2 linked regions of the Homo sapiens genome follow. The protein of the gene in region 1 purifies or fractionates together with the protein of each later gene. This does not show direct contact. Each region holds a gene or a part of one and is shown on either strand. Other genes may lie near its edges.

What was found. The genes of interacting proteins can lie anywhere in the genome.
Region 2: the proteins of TRIM55 (region 1) and SRSF7 purify together in Homo sapiens (affinity purification with mass spectrometry; 2 studies listed by BioGRID, with this or other methods). This does not show direct contact.

Annotation. Positions count from the first base shown.
Region 1 is NC_000008.11:66,144,129-66,151,161, reverse strand, and holds part of TRIM55 (tripartite motif-containing protein 55), read right to left. Parts: intron 1,518-7,033; coding exon 1,284-1,517; intron 946-1,283; coding exon 923-945; intron 821-922; coding exon 696-820; intron 1-695. UniProt on the Homo sapiens protein: E3 ubiquitin ligase that plays an important role in regulating cardiac development and contractility, muscle growth, metabolism, and fiber-type differentiation.
Region 2 is NC_000002.12:38,743,094-38,748,389, reverse strand, and holds the end of SRSF7 (serine/arginine-rich splicing factor 7), read left to right. Parts: intron 1-232; coding exon 233-343; intron 344-1,642; coding exon 1,643-1,696; intron 1,697-2,210; coding exon 2,211-2,246; intron 2,247-3,202; coding exon 3,203-3,257; 3' UTR 3,258-4,791; downstream 4,792-5,296.

The sequences.
Region 1 (7,033 bases):
GATGTGCTGCAATATCTAACCCACATGCCTCCTATGTATTGTTTTTATCTCATCTTTAACCTTGCTCCTGCTGACACTTTACATTATTTTGGCTAACACTGTGCATAGGATTGAAGTTGAGATATCATCATTATCAATTATGAAGCATTTGCTTATCAAGAGTCAAATACCCAACCTGACATTAAAATAGGCACCAGGCCGGGCATGGTGGCTCACTTCTGTAATCCCAGCACTTTGGGAGGCCAAGGCAGGTGGATCACCTGAGGTCAGAAGTTCGAGACCAGCCTGGCCAACATGGCGAAACCCTACCTCTCTAATAATTCAAAAATTAGCCGGGTGTGGTGGCAGGTGCCTGTAATCCCAGCTACTCAGGAGGCTGAGGCGGGAGAATCGCTTGAACCCAGGAGGTGGAGGTTCCAGTGAGCCAAGATCGTGCCATTGCACTCTAGGCTGGGCAACAGAGTGAGAGTCCATCAAAAAAAAAAAAAGGCACCATATGTGCAAAGCTAAATAAACACTGTCAACAAACGATGTGATCCTGTAATGAAATAGAGCTTCACATTGGATATGATCCTTGTAAAGTTGTCGACATTGATTCTGGAGGTGATTCTGAATCCCCGCTTTCCTCCCACCCAACTCTTCGGCAGCTTTCACACACCTGCAACTTCGGCCAAATGGTCAAAAGAATAACAAACCTCTGTAAAAGTCAATTTCACGTATTATCTTTTCTTCTCTATTGAGGTTGACTGTGAAGTGGTTCATGTTCTCATAGCCATGTTCTATTTTCTCCATCTGAAATGCCTTTGATGCTTCCGAGATTCTGCAACAAAGACAAGTTGCCACTTTCTGTCACTGTTGAAAATTGGATAGCCTTGGGTAAAGGTGAAAATATGCATTTTTACATAAAATAAAAAGTTCTTACTTTTTTAGCAGGGTTTTGGCATTCTGTGAAAGCAAACAAAAGATAGTCTTACTTAAATTATTTCCACAAAAGACAGTGGTAAGACAATTATTTCCTTTGTTGACTCTGAGAATCTCATAGCTTAGTTTCTAAATGTCATAAATAACTGCTGTCTTATAACAGAACCCTATTAGATTTAAGCAGTATCATAGACATGCTATTTAAGTTGTTTAAATAGATTAATATATAAGCACATGGGGTTTATATTTTAGTTGGTAAAATAAATAAAAACTGAAATGTACATAAAATAATAAAAATGTGATAACTAATTTTCCAACACCCACCTTTTGGGTTGTTACTTTGGTGCCAAAAAGAGACTTACCTGCAGAAACACTGCCATTTCTGGCTCATCCATAAACTGAATTCCTGACTCAACCAACTTTGAGACGTTCTCCAAATGATCAGAATACTTTTTGATCAGAGCACGGACATGTTCCAGTTTCTCCTCTTGGGTTCGGGTAATGACTTGGGTCATTTCATTCTTCCTCTCCTCCAAAATGCCATACAGGTAATCAAACTTCTCACAAAGCTCTTGTTTCTGTTTTCTGCAACATTCCTATTAGTTGGGTTAGCTAATGTTAGAAAGTATTTGAAACAAAGTCGATTTGGAGAAATCACCTAGTTATCCTGGGAAAGAAGAACATTTACTTATGTAGGATATTTTTTTCTTTTCCCTGAAGATGTCTATTTAGGTATGGATACCCACTATGTTGGTGCTTTGGAAATTCCATTTTTAACAAATTTGATATTTAGACTATCTAAAACTCAATTAAATTGGCTACATGAATCAATGGTTTTTCAATCTTCTGTTCTTTATAAATGGAGAATTTCATAGAAATAAAGAATGATTTTCTTTTATATTATATTTGGGTTACATAGGTTATAGGTTATATTTTGCTTTGGAGTGTGTGTGCATGTGTGTGCATGCAAGGAAAATACTATGATACTTCCTGGTTTGTACCTTAAAGTCTCTGCTCCACCTATACCAATATTGTCCTAGTTTCAGTCCTCCTATATAGAATTTGTAGCTTCCCAAAGGCCTCTGCAGCTAGGATTCCCTCCTCCCAGTCAACTTACACACTGCAACCAAGTTAATTTTCTCAGAGTACAGTTCTAATCATGTTTTTTTGTTCTTTCCTTTCTTTCTTCTTTGAGACAGAGTCTAGCTCTGTTGCCCACGCTAGAGTACAGTGGTGTGATCTCGGCTCATTGCAACCTCCGCCTCCCAGGTTCAGGCAATTCTCCTGCCTCAGCATCCCAAGTAGCTAGAATTACAGGCACCTGCCACCACACCCAGCTAATTTTTGAATTTTTAGTAGAGATGGGGTTTCACCACATTGGCCAGGCCGGTCTTGAACTCCTGACCTACAGTGATCCGCCCACCTCAGCCTCCCAAAGTGCTGGGATTACAGGCGTGAGCCACCGTGCCCGGCCTTAATCATGTTTTTTTCTATGATGACTCCCTATTACACAAAGAATAACACTTAAACTTCCTAACTAGCTTTCAAGACCCCTCCATGATCTGGTTCCAATTTCTCTCATAACATTCTACTATCCTCCATTGTATACCCTGAATTCCAGCAAAAATAAACCACTCACTTTCTTTGTTCATGCTTTCCCTTCTGTCTACAGTGTTCTTCCCCAAGTCACCACTGCAAACTCTATGCAATTTCAAAGACATTGTCAGACTACCACTTCTTCCATAAAGTGTCCCTTGATGTTTATGGCTGAATGCAACTTTTAACTTTCTGAAATCTCATAATAGTTACCATTGATAGCATATATCTGTATCTACCAGATCCTCTATTTATCCAATACTGCCTAAGAATGGGTAATACTGTATCTGGTCTATGCTCTTGGAGAGAAAGGCTGTGTTGGAAGTCTGGCTTGCACATTTGTGTTGTGTGGCTGAAGTATCTCCAGTACCATCCAGATCCCTTTAGTCTGGGCCCATCTTTAAATCATAATTAATTATCCAGTTCATCTAGTCATTGGCCTTTTGGTTTTTCAATCCCTGGTAAGCTTGGTGTGCATGTATGCCAATCTCCTTGGACTTGACCATCTCTGGGTCCAGGACCTTTATAGCTGAGAGCAGGTTGTGAGCCATAGTGATCTAACCTAGCTCTCCCGCACAGTGAGAGCTTCTTGGGAATCCAGCAAATTTATTTCTGACATCTCTGACCATTCTATACCCTTTATTACATATTCTTTCATTTTGGTAAACATTGAAGTCTTTTATGTCATGTATTGCTTTCTTCCTTTATGTGAATTTCTTAAATATCCAAAGTATATTTTTTTTGAGGGTAGAATCTGGGTCTGCCTAGGACACAGAGCACCTTGGATAGTAGCTGTTCACTAAATATCTGTTGAATAGATTTTGTGGTTTTTTTTTTTTTTTTTTTTTTTGAGATGGAGTCATGCTCTGTCACCCACGCTGGAGTGCAATGGCGCGATCTCGGCTCACTGCAAGCTCCACCTCCCAGGTTCAAGTGATTCTCCTGCCTCAGGCTCCTGAGTAGCTGGGATTACAGGCACATGCCACCTTGCCCGGCTAATTTTTGTATTTTTAGTAAAGAAGGAGTTTCACCATATTGGTCAGGCTGATCTCAAACTCCTGACCTCATGATCCACCCGCCTCGGCCTCCCAAAGTGCTGGGATTACAGGCGTGAGCCACCAATCCTGGCGGAATAGATTTTTTTTTTAATGTGTTTCATTTCCTCTCAATTTCTCTACTATTCTCAGTATGGAGTCAGGGAGAATGACCTAAACCAAATTGTTGATTATGAAGATACTCTGCAAATGTGCAAGAAATACATCCCTTACTCCATTGCCTTCCTTGGAACAGTCAATTCTCATCACAGTTCCCAACCAAATTATAATGCATGGAGATCCAGTGGTGCCAACTATTTTAATAGTAAATGCCTTACCACTGTCATCCACCCATTCATTCATGGATTTAACAAACAATGCATGTCATTTGTGTCAAGACTCTGGGGATCCAAAAAAGAATTAACATAGTTCCTATTCTCAAGGAGCTCACAGTTCACTGAGAAAGACTATAGACCAATAATGTAATTCAATATGGTAGGCTGAATAATGTAAATATTTTAGAGATTTATACCAGATGCTTTAGAAGCATTTATGGAATCTTTGTCCAACCCTTTGTGTAGGTGGAGGAACTTTGAGGGGAGCCAGAAATGTTGACTCAGGAAGAGTTTCTCAGAGGAATTAGTACTTGAACTTGACCTTAAGGAGGAATAGGAGTAAAGGAGGTTGAGGAGGGGATGAAAATGCTTGAAGTCCTAGCAGTTGTGAAAGTAATGGAACAAGGGCCCATGCAGCATGTCAAGATGTGGAAATTGCCTGGCTTGACAAATTTCCACTCATTTCCAGCCCTTTAGCTTGAGAGTCGGACTGTTCAACCAGGCCTAGAAACTGAAACCTATTAGTAGCTTTCCAATCAAACTCTCTTTCACTGTATTATCTTTTGTTCCAACCTTCAGGCAACCAGGTGCCCACTGTACACATGAAATAAGCCTCTCTGATATTTAGAAGCTCTACTGTGATCATATAATGGTTTCCAGCTTGTTTCTCCCAAATGAGTTGTGCACTTGAAACATTTATAATATGAGTATTATATTAAGATGTAATACAGGTAGAAAGTCTTTGATTCACAAAAATTTTCTCCTATGTGATTTAATATGTGAGAACATTCAAGTTTATGGCAGCCAAGTCATTTACAATGAGACAGATGTGAAGCATGTGTAATCTAGTGTACTCTCTCAAGTCAAATAAAGATTAAATCACTTATTTTGACCATATAATTTTTTTTGGCAGTTTAAATGGAATAACTAATTTCATTCCTATATTACTTGCAATTCCAAGCATTATTTTATTTCTATTCTGTTTTTTTAAATAACTTATATTGAATGTTAGTAAAACTACTATCATTTGTTTATACTTCATAGTGCAGGAAATGCTACCCCATATGCGGTCTATGCTTTATTAAAATTATTATATCATTAAATACTTTGTAAAGTGCTTATAATATTACCTGGCATATATTGGTACTGGATCAGTGTCTATTAAATTTAGGTACAAATTCCTTAACCTGAATTATTCAGTTGTGGAATTTTGAAGCTGCATGGAATATTAGAAGTAACCTGCTCCAAATCAATCATGTCACTCATGTGGAAACTGAAACCCAGCAGAGCTGTCACTTTCTCAAGGCCATCCGACCATTTATTATTGGTGCCTGGCCTACAGTCAAGGTCTTTGAACTCCTGGGTCATTGCTACTCTCACCACACCCAGCTGGGCCCATATTTTAAGTAACTTTAAAAAATTATATGAAGTGCTTGTAAATGGAATATATGCCTTTTAACAAATGTACTGGCCAGGTGCAGTGGCTCACACCTGTAATCCTAGCACTTTGGGAGGCCAAGGCTGGAGGTGGAGGCTGCAGTGTGCCAAGATCGCGCCATTGCCCTCCAGCCTGGGTGACAGAGTGAGACTCCACCTCCAAAAGAGAAAAAAAAAACAAAACCCAAATTCACTATGCTTAAGGTAGATTTTTTAAAGGCAAGGCATCTTAAATTGTTTCAGAATTATATTCCTAGTTCTTTCAACAAAATTCACCAACCACTGACTTTGTACCTGGCATTGTATGATCTAATAACCTGCCATAATTTTCCATTGTTTTGGAGAATAATGAACAAAAAAAAGTATCATAAATGATAAATATAAAATCATTATATTTTCTAATTCCTAATGGAAAAAACTTTTTTCTCTTGTTTAATTAGCTTTTAATATAATTCTATGCAAAAAATGGTAAGAGTTAGATAAATCTGTTTCTGAAACGGCAAAAATACATGCCTCTTCTTTGGAATTACGAAATTGGAACTTACAGACTTTTAGAAATTAACTCAAAATGTTCAGGTTAACCTAATGTCATATTCAAATGTGAAATACTCCATGAAATGAAGTCTCCTATTTTTTCACACTCTTTGAGGTAGAACCCACACACAAGAGACTAACTTAGATGTCCCCTAATCTTTCTTGGCTTCAAGACCATCAAAGTGCTGTGAAAGTCAGGGAACAATAAACACCTCAGGTTATCAATTTGCCCTCTAAGCTGATGAGGGAACAGATATGTGCCATGAAAAAAAAATGTTCTCAGAGGCCACCTAGCTACTGACAGTGATGACTCTGAATTTCAGTACCTACTGTGCCTTTGTTAATGTGAATCTGCAACACTTTCAGCAGTGACTTTCTAGCAGCCTGAAAAATGGAATAGGAAAAAATGTGGACTTTTGCATTGTGAAAACGTCTGCAGACAGAACACTTTAAAGGACTGTTGTTACCTACAAAAGCATGATAGCAACCATATTTGTCTCTTCTCCACAAAAACTTCCTCATCTCAAAGACTGCTCCTTGCTTTTAGCATACTTTTTCATTTACTTGAGTAAAAAGGTATGTATCTTTAAGACCAATTCGGAGCCATACACCTCCCCTCTTCTCTGGACAGTAATTCAATCAAGATATACACTTTTTGAGCTTTCGAGTTTATCTTTTCAAATAGTCTCCATTTTCTTCCTTTTGATGTCTGTGCTTCCTACATCCTCTGTGTGTGCACCTGTGTGAGTGTGCTTAGCAAGTGAAGTATACCTCCACCATAAATGAAGTAGGTATTGGTCTCCGGGTATACTCTGATGCAAAGCCTCTGGCTGCTGCACAGCCTTCCTCCTGGGTCTGCTAGGACAGTTATATTTCTTGGCTTCTTGGGAGAACCAAATTAAAGTTGTCTATAATATTTTAATGAAAATAAAATTCATCCCATTTCTAGGGAGAATGCAGTGTGGATGCAATATACCAAAAAGGGATGATTTTATAAAGTGAAGATCATCCCTCCCATATTGAAATGGTAAGATGATGATGGGTGGGATATTTGTTTCTAACCAATGCCAACATTTCTGGATGTAAAGAAAAAAAATCAAATGGTCATTTGGTTGTTTCCTTAGAAGTGAGTAGGTAACATTTAACATTGACCTAAAGCCATTGTTGAACTGTTGC
Region 2 (5,296 bases), on another chromosome or scaffold:
GCCTCCCGAGTAGCTGGGACTGTAGGCACTGCCACCATACCCAGCTAATTTTTATTTTTGTAGAAATGGTCTTGCACTGTTTCCCAGGCTGGTCTCAAGCTCCTGGGCTCAAACGATCCTCCCGCAGTGCTGGGATTATGGGCATGAGCCACTGCACCGTTCCCCAGTTGAAGTCTTAACAGGCCAAAAAAAAAAAAAACTGTGGAGATGGACTTAAAGTTCTTTATTTTAGGTCAAGGTCAGCATCTCCTCGACGATCAAGATCTATCTCTCTTCGTAGATCAAGATCAGCTTCACTCAGAAGATCTAGGTCTGGTTCTATAAAAGGATCGAGGTATTTCCAGTATGTAACACTTTTTTTCCTTACTTGTGTTTGGATTGTTCACATCTTATCAGTAGAGTGTCTTAAGGACATAATTCAAATGGATTGCTTCAGGGAATATTTGAGATGTAAAAGTTTGGAATTTATGTGTAACTTGTAACATAAATATTAACCTAGTTTTACAGATGAAGAAAAGGGCTACTAGAGATTTTAAGGCTTGTTAGGCCGTGTGGTAGACAAGGGTCCCAAGCAATACAGTTCTACTCAACACTCTGGGTAGGCATGTTGCTATAAACTTTTCTGGCTTCAGATTGGATGATACTAGCTCTGAAAGATGGTAATTGATTTTCCCGACAAAAAGGCCTATTAGCACCAGGAAAAGAGATCAGAAGCAAGTAGAAACATTTCTCATTTTTGGAATGATGGGGTTGATTTGAGACACTGGAAAGTTGACTAGGGCAGTAGTGTGTACACAGAAATGAATGTGGATTTTTTTTTTTAGACCGTTTCAGACCTGAAAAAACTAAAGAACCAGAGCTTTACTATTTGTAGAAGGCCTTAAAAGGAGATAGAATGGAAAAAATTGTAAAATAAGTATTGCAACATGTAATTAACAATATTGTTATCTGTACCAACGATAAAACCGTGGTACGGAATGCTACTGGGAGTTAAATTGCTGTTTAATAGCACAAAACCTTTAAATGCAGGAATTCTGAATCTTGTGGTCTATTTGAGAAAGCTATGAACCATCTCTTTAGATAAATTTAAAAGATAGATATGTCAGTCTGATTTGGTTTGTCTGACAGATTGATGGCTCTCAAACATAACTTGATCCAGGAATAAAGCCTTACAAATGGGGGGCGGCTTTCTTTTCGTCTGGCCTTATCACCTGAATTAGTCTCAGTTCAGGGGTCTGGTTATTTTCATCCTGCCTTAGCCTCCTGAGTAGCTGGGACTGCCATTGTGTACCACAGTGCCCAGCTGAGGGATCTGTGCCTTAAGTGAGGTTAGTTTTGCTTCCTTCATACCAGTCTCATCAAATGAAAACCATGTATTTCCCTTGGATATTACACAGTGTTTGAGAATGTTATACCTGTACAGAAACTAACCAATTGAGTGATAGAAACAAGTAATTGAAATGGGGGTTCCTTATGTCTGGTAACACTTTGTTTGACAGTGTGTTAGACAGAATAAGGCAAGTGTTGCATCTTGTTTAGTTTTAGCTTCTTTATGCCTGACCAACCTAATACAGTGTTGAGTAGTTAAGGAAATTCCTTTGGACTGATTGATATAATTGTGTTTTTCACTTTTTTTATTAAGATCCCCGTCGAGGTCAAGATCAAGATCCAGGTCTATTTCACGACCAAGAAGCAGGTAGGGTAAAAATTTGATTATGCTTTTCTAGTTATATGGCACCAATATCCAAAGAGTTCAAAGTGTTTTTAATTGTTGAAATTTTAAGTGTTAACTCTAAACTTAGGTTTTAGTGGGAACACAGTACCTTATTTGTGTATGTCCTATTTATTACTGGCTGACTTTCCCTGAACAAGGGAATGTAAAACTATAGTGAGAAAGAAGCTTATGACTTGGGGGATTATATTAAAGAGGCCCTTGTTAGAACTGATAGGTGCATGGAGAAGCATCCTGAAATCGATGTGCTTAAAGCAGAATGTAAAAGATTAATCATGATGTAGTAATTGAGTCATTTTTTGAAAAACAGTTGTTGAAAGATTGGCTTTTGTTAGCAACAACTGGTAGGATGTTTTTCAGTTTAAGTGCAGTCTGACATTTTAAGCTTAGGACATTTGGGGGTTTTACGGTATTGGTGACTACAAGAAAGGGATTGGTTAGTACTCTTTCTTTAATAGAATTTCTCATGTTTTGACAGCCGATCAAAGTCCAGATCTCCATCTCCAAAAAGAAGGTAAGCTAAATGTTTTGTTGCCAAATCTTGCCTGTCAAGTGTGGCCTCTGCAGAATTTGTTTGCTTACTGCTTTGCAGTCTTTGAGCTCTTTGGAGAATTGGTGCTATATAGATTAAAATACTATGCTAAGTTTCTGAAATACTTTTTTTTTTTGATTCAGTAACATTAGTTTATACTTTTGCTGGAAATACTTAGTCATAAAATGTTAGGGTGATTATTAAGATGTGATTGGTCCTGTGAGTACTTGGTAGAAATTTTGGTAAGATAGATGCCTTTTCCCCACATGTACAATAGATACAAAGTGTGGAGAAAAGTCTTGGAAATAGTTACCTGCCTAGTGCTTCTTTATGACCAGAAAACTTCAAATAGTTGTCATATTTATCTAGTGCTTCTTAATGACCAGAAGACTTCAAATAGTTGTCATATTTAACTGCAGGTTGACCTTGCAATTTTGACAAGGAGGATAGCCTAATTTTTTTTTTTTTCTGGGATGGAGTTTTCGCTCTGTCCCCAGGCTTGGAGTGCAGTGGCTCAATCTTGGCTCACTGCAGCCTCCGATTCCCGGGTTCAAGCAATTATCCTGTCTCAGCCTCTTGAGCAGTTGGGATTACAGGCACCCACCGCCAAGCCTGGCTAATTTTTTGTATTTCTAGTAGAGACGGAGTTTCACCATGTTGGCGAGGTTGGTCTTAAACTCCTGATCTTAGGTGATCACCTGCCTCGGCCTCTCCCAAAGTGCTGGGGTTACAGGCGTGAGCCACCGTGCCTGGCCAGGGTAGCCTAATCTTAAGCCAGGGACAAAAGATGAATATATGTAAGTTTCATGTCATTTTTAGGTCTTTGCTATAGGAAATTAGTACCTTAGGCCACCTTTGAAGTTATTGAAAGTTAGTACATGTACATGAGAGTTTCAATTGACACTAATTGGATCCAAACCTAATGTTTTTCTTTTTAGTCGTTCCCCATCAGGAAGTCCTCGCAGAAGTGCAAGTCCTGAAAGAATGGACTGAAGCTCTCAAGTTCACCCTTTAGGGAAAAGTTATTTTGTTTACATTATTATAAGGGATTTGTGATGTCTGTAAAGTGTAACCTAGGAAAGATAATTCAACCATCTAATCAAAATGGATCTGGATTACTATGTAAATTCACAGCAGTAAGATAATATAAATTTTGTTGAATGTATTAACATCATATGGTCTGAAAATGTGGGTTTTTATTTGGCACATTTAAATAAAATGTTTCTAACTAGATTTTTGATTTGTGTTCAATATTAACACTTCTTAATTTGATATATTTGAGAGTCAGACATTATAATTGTTAACCTTATTCATACATACCTACATTCAGAATTGAAAGGTGTTGGTTAAGTCTTGAACATCACTATTCTATGCATAAAACTTGGCCAGGATCTTAAGGGACTTTGAAAATTCCATCTTACCCTTGTAGCTCTGGGTAAGATGACCTGAGTCCCTTATGATACAGCCTGAATGCATCATGACAGATCCTTAAGTTAGCTAATCCGTTTGAAGTTGGTGTTAGTAGGTATTGTATGATCAGTGGTGAAGCAAGTAGGACCACTGATGTGTCTAAATGAGCATGACAGGAACTAAACGAAACTGATTAAATGTATGAGAAATAGAAACATTTCTGGATGATCTTTATACTAATTGCAGCTTTCAGGCTACTAGGTGGCATAGTGTTAATTAGGACTCCCCAAGATATGGGGAGTTCTACTCTCAATGGTCTTGTTTCTTTGCTTTCTACATTAGTTAACCAGTTTTATACCAAAAAATGCATGTTTGAGGAATTGTCTGAAATTGGGACAAAACACCTTCATGTAAACCAGCTTTGCAAAATTTTCCAGCCCAGATACTCTTCATCTATTCAAATGGATTGTCTTATTCTGAGCAAAGACCTGTTGTTAATCTTCAAGCTAGGTTTTGCAGTTCCCAACCACAACATTCTTCTATTTTGCCAGGCTGGTGCAAAGTAATTAAAGATGTCAATCAGAAATGTCAATGAGACTAAAGTGGTTTTGTAAATCTCAGCTATATTTAGCAACACTCCATGTAGCTAATATTTTTTGGTAGCATCTGGTAGACCTTAGAATGTTACATAGCCAGTAGGTTCTTTATTCAAATTTTAAGTATCTTAAGAATAGTAGGGCAGTAACAGTTACTTTTGAGAGTTTTCTGGTCAAGCTTTTACCAGGCATTCTCTAGCCTTGGTACAAAAAAAAAAAAACCTGCTGGTTGCGCAGATACCTAGGCTTGTCCATTTTATGCATTTCAGCAAAGTCATTGGATACTATTGCAACTTGGGAATACTGGTCTGCATCAAGTTTATTCGGTAGTTTGACCGCTAGTATGTTGGAAGTTATTTGGATTGTTTTTGGAATTTTGACTGGCTGAATTATGGTTGGTATAAAGTTATGTGTATAACTGGCAGGCTTATTTATCTGTTGCACTTGGTTAGCTTTAATTGTTCTGTATTATTTAAAGATAAGTTTACTCAACAATAAATCTGCAGAGATTGAACAAATAATCCTGATACTTAATTTTTGGAAGTGGGAGCTCTCAGCCAAAAGTAGGAGGCATTAATCCTGTAGCTTTAGGATGGGCAGCTAGTAGCGTCCTAGAAATGAGTATAGAAAGGATAAAAAGGTGTGGAGGAGGGGTAGGGGCAAAAATGGTTTTAAACAAATTCCAGCCTTGTGGGGAAAAGGGCTGTTTGGGCCAATACCTCTTAGGTCATGTGCAACTTGGCACCCGTTACTGATAGATGCATTTCAAAATAAGCTTTGGTGCATCCCCCCACTTGTTTTCTGTGATTGGGATTGCCAAATTGATTGTCACTGATTGGAAGTGCTGCTCCAGACTCATTCCTTCTAAACTAGCCTAGCACTGATGAGTAATCAGTCAGTTTTTATTTTTAATTTTTAAAATTTTTTTGCTTGGTGCGGTGGCTCGCGCCTGTAATCCCCCAGCTACTTGGGAGTCTGAGGCGGGAGAATCACTTGAACCTGATTGAATAGAGGTTGCAGTGAGCT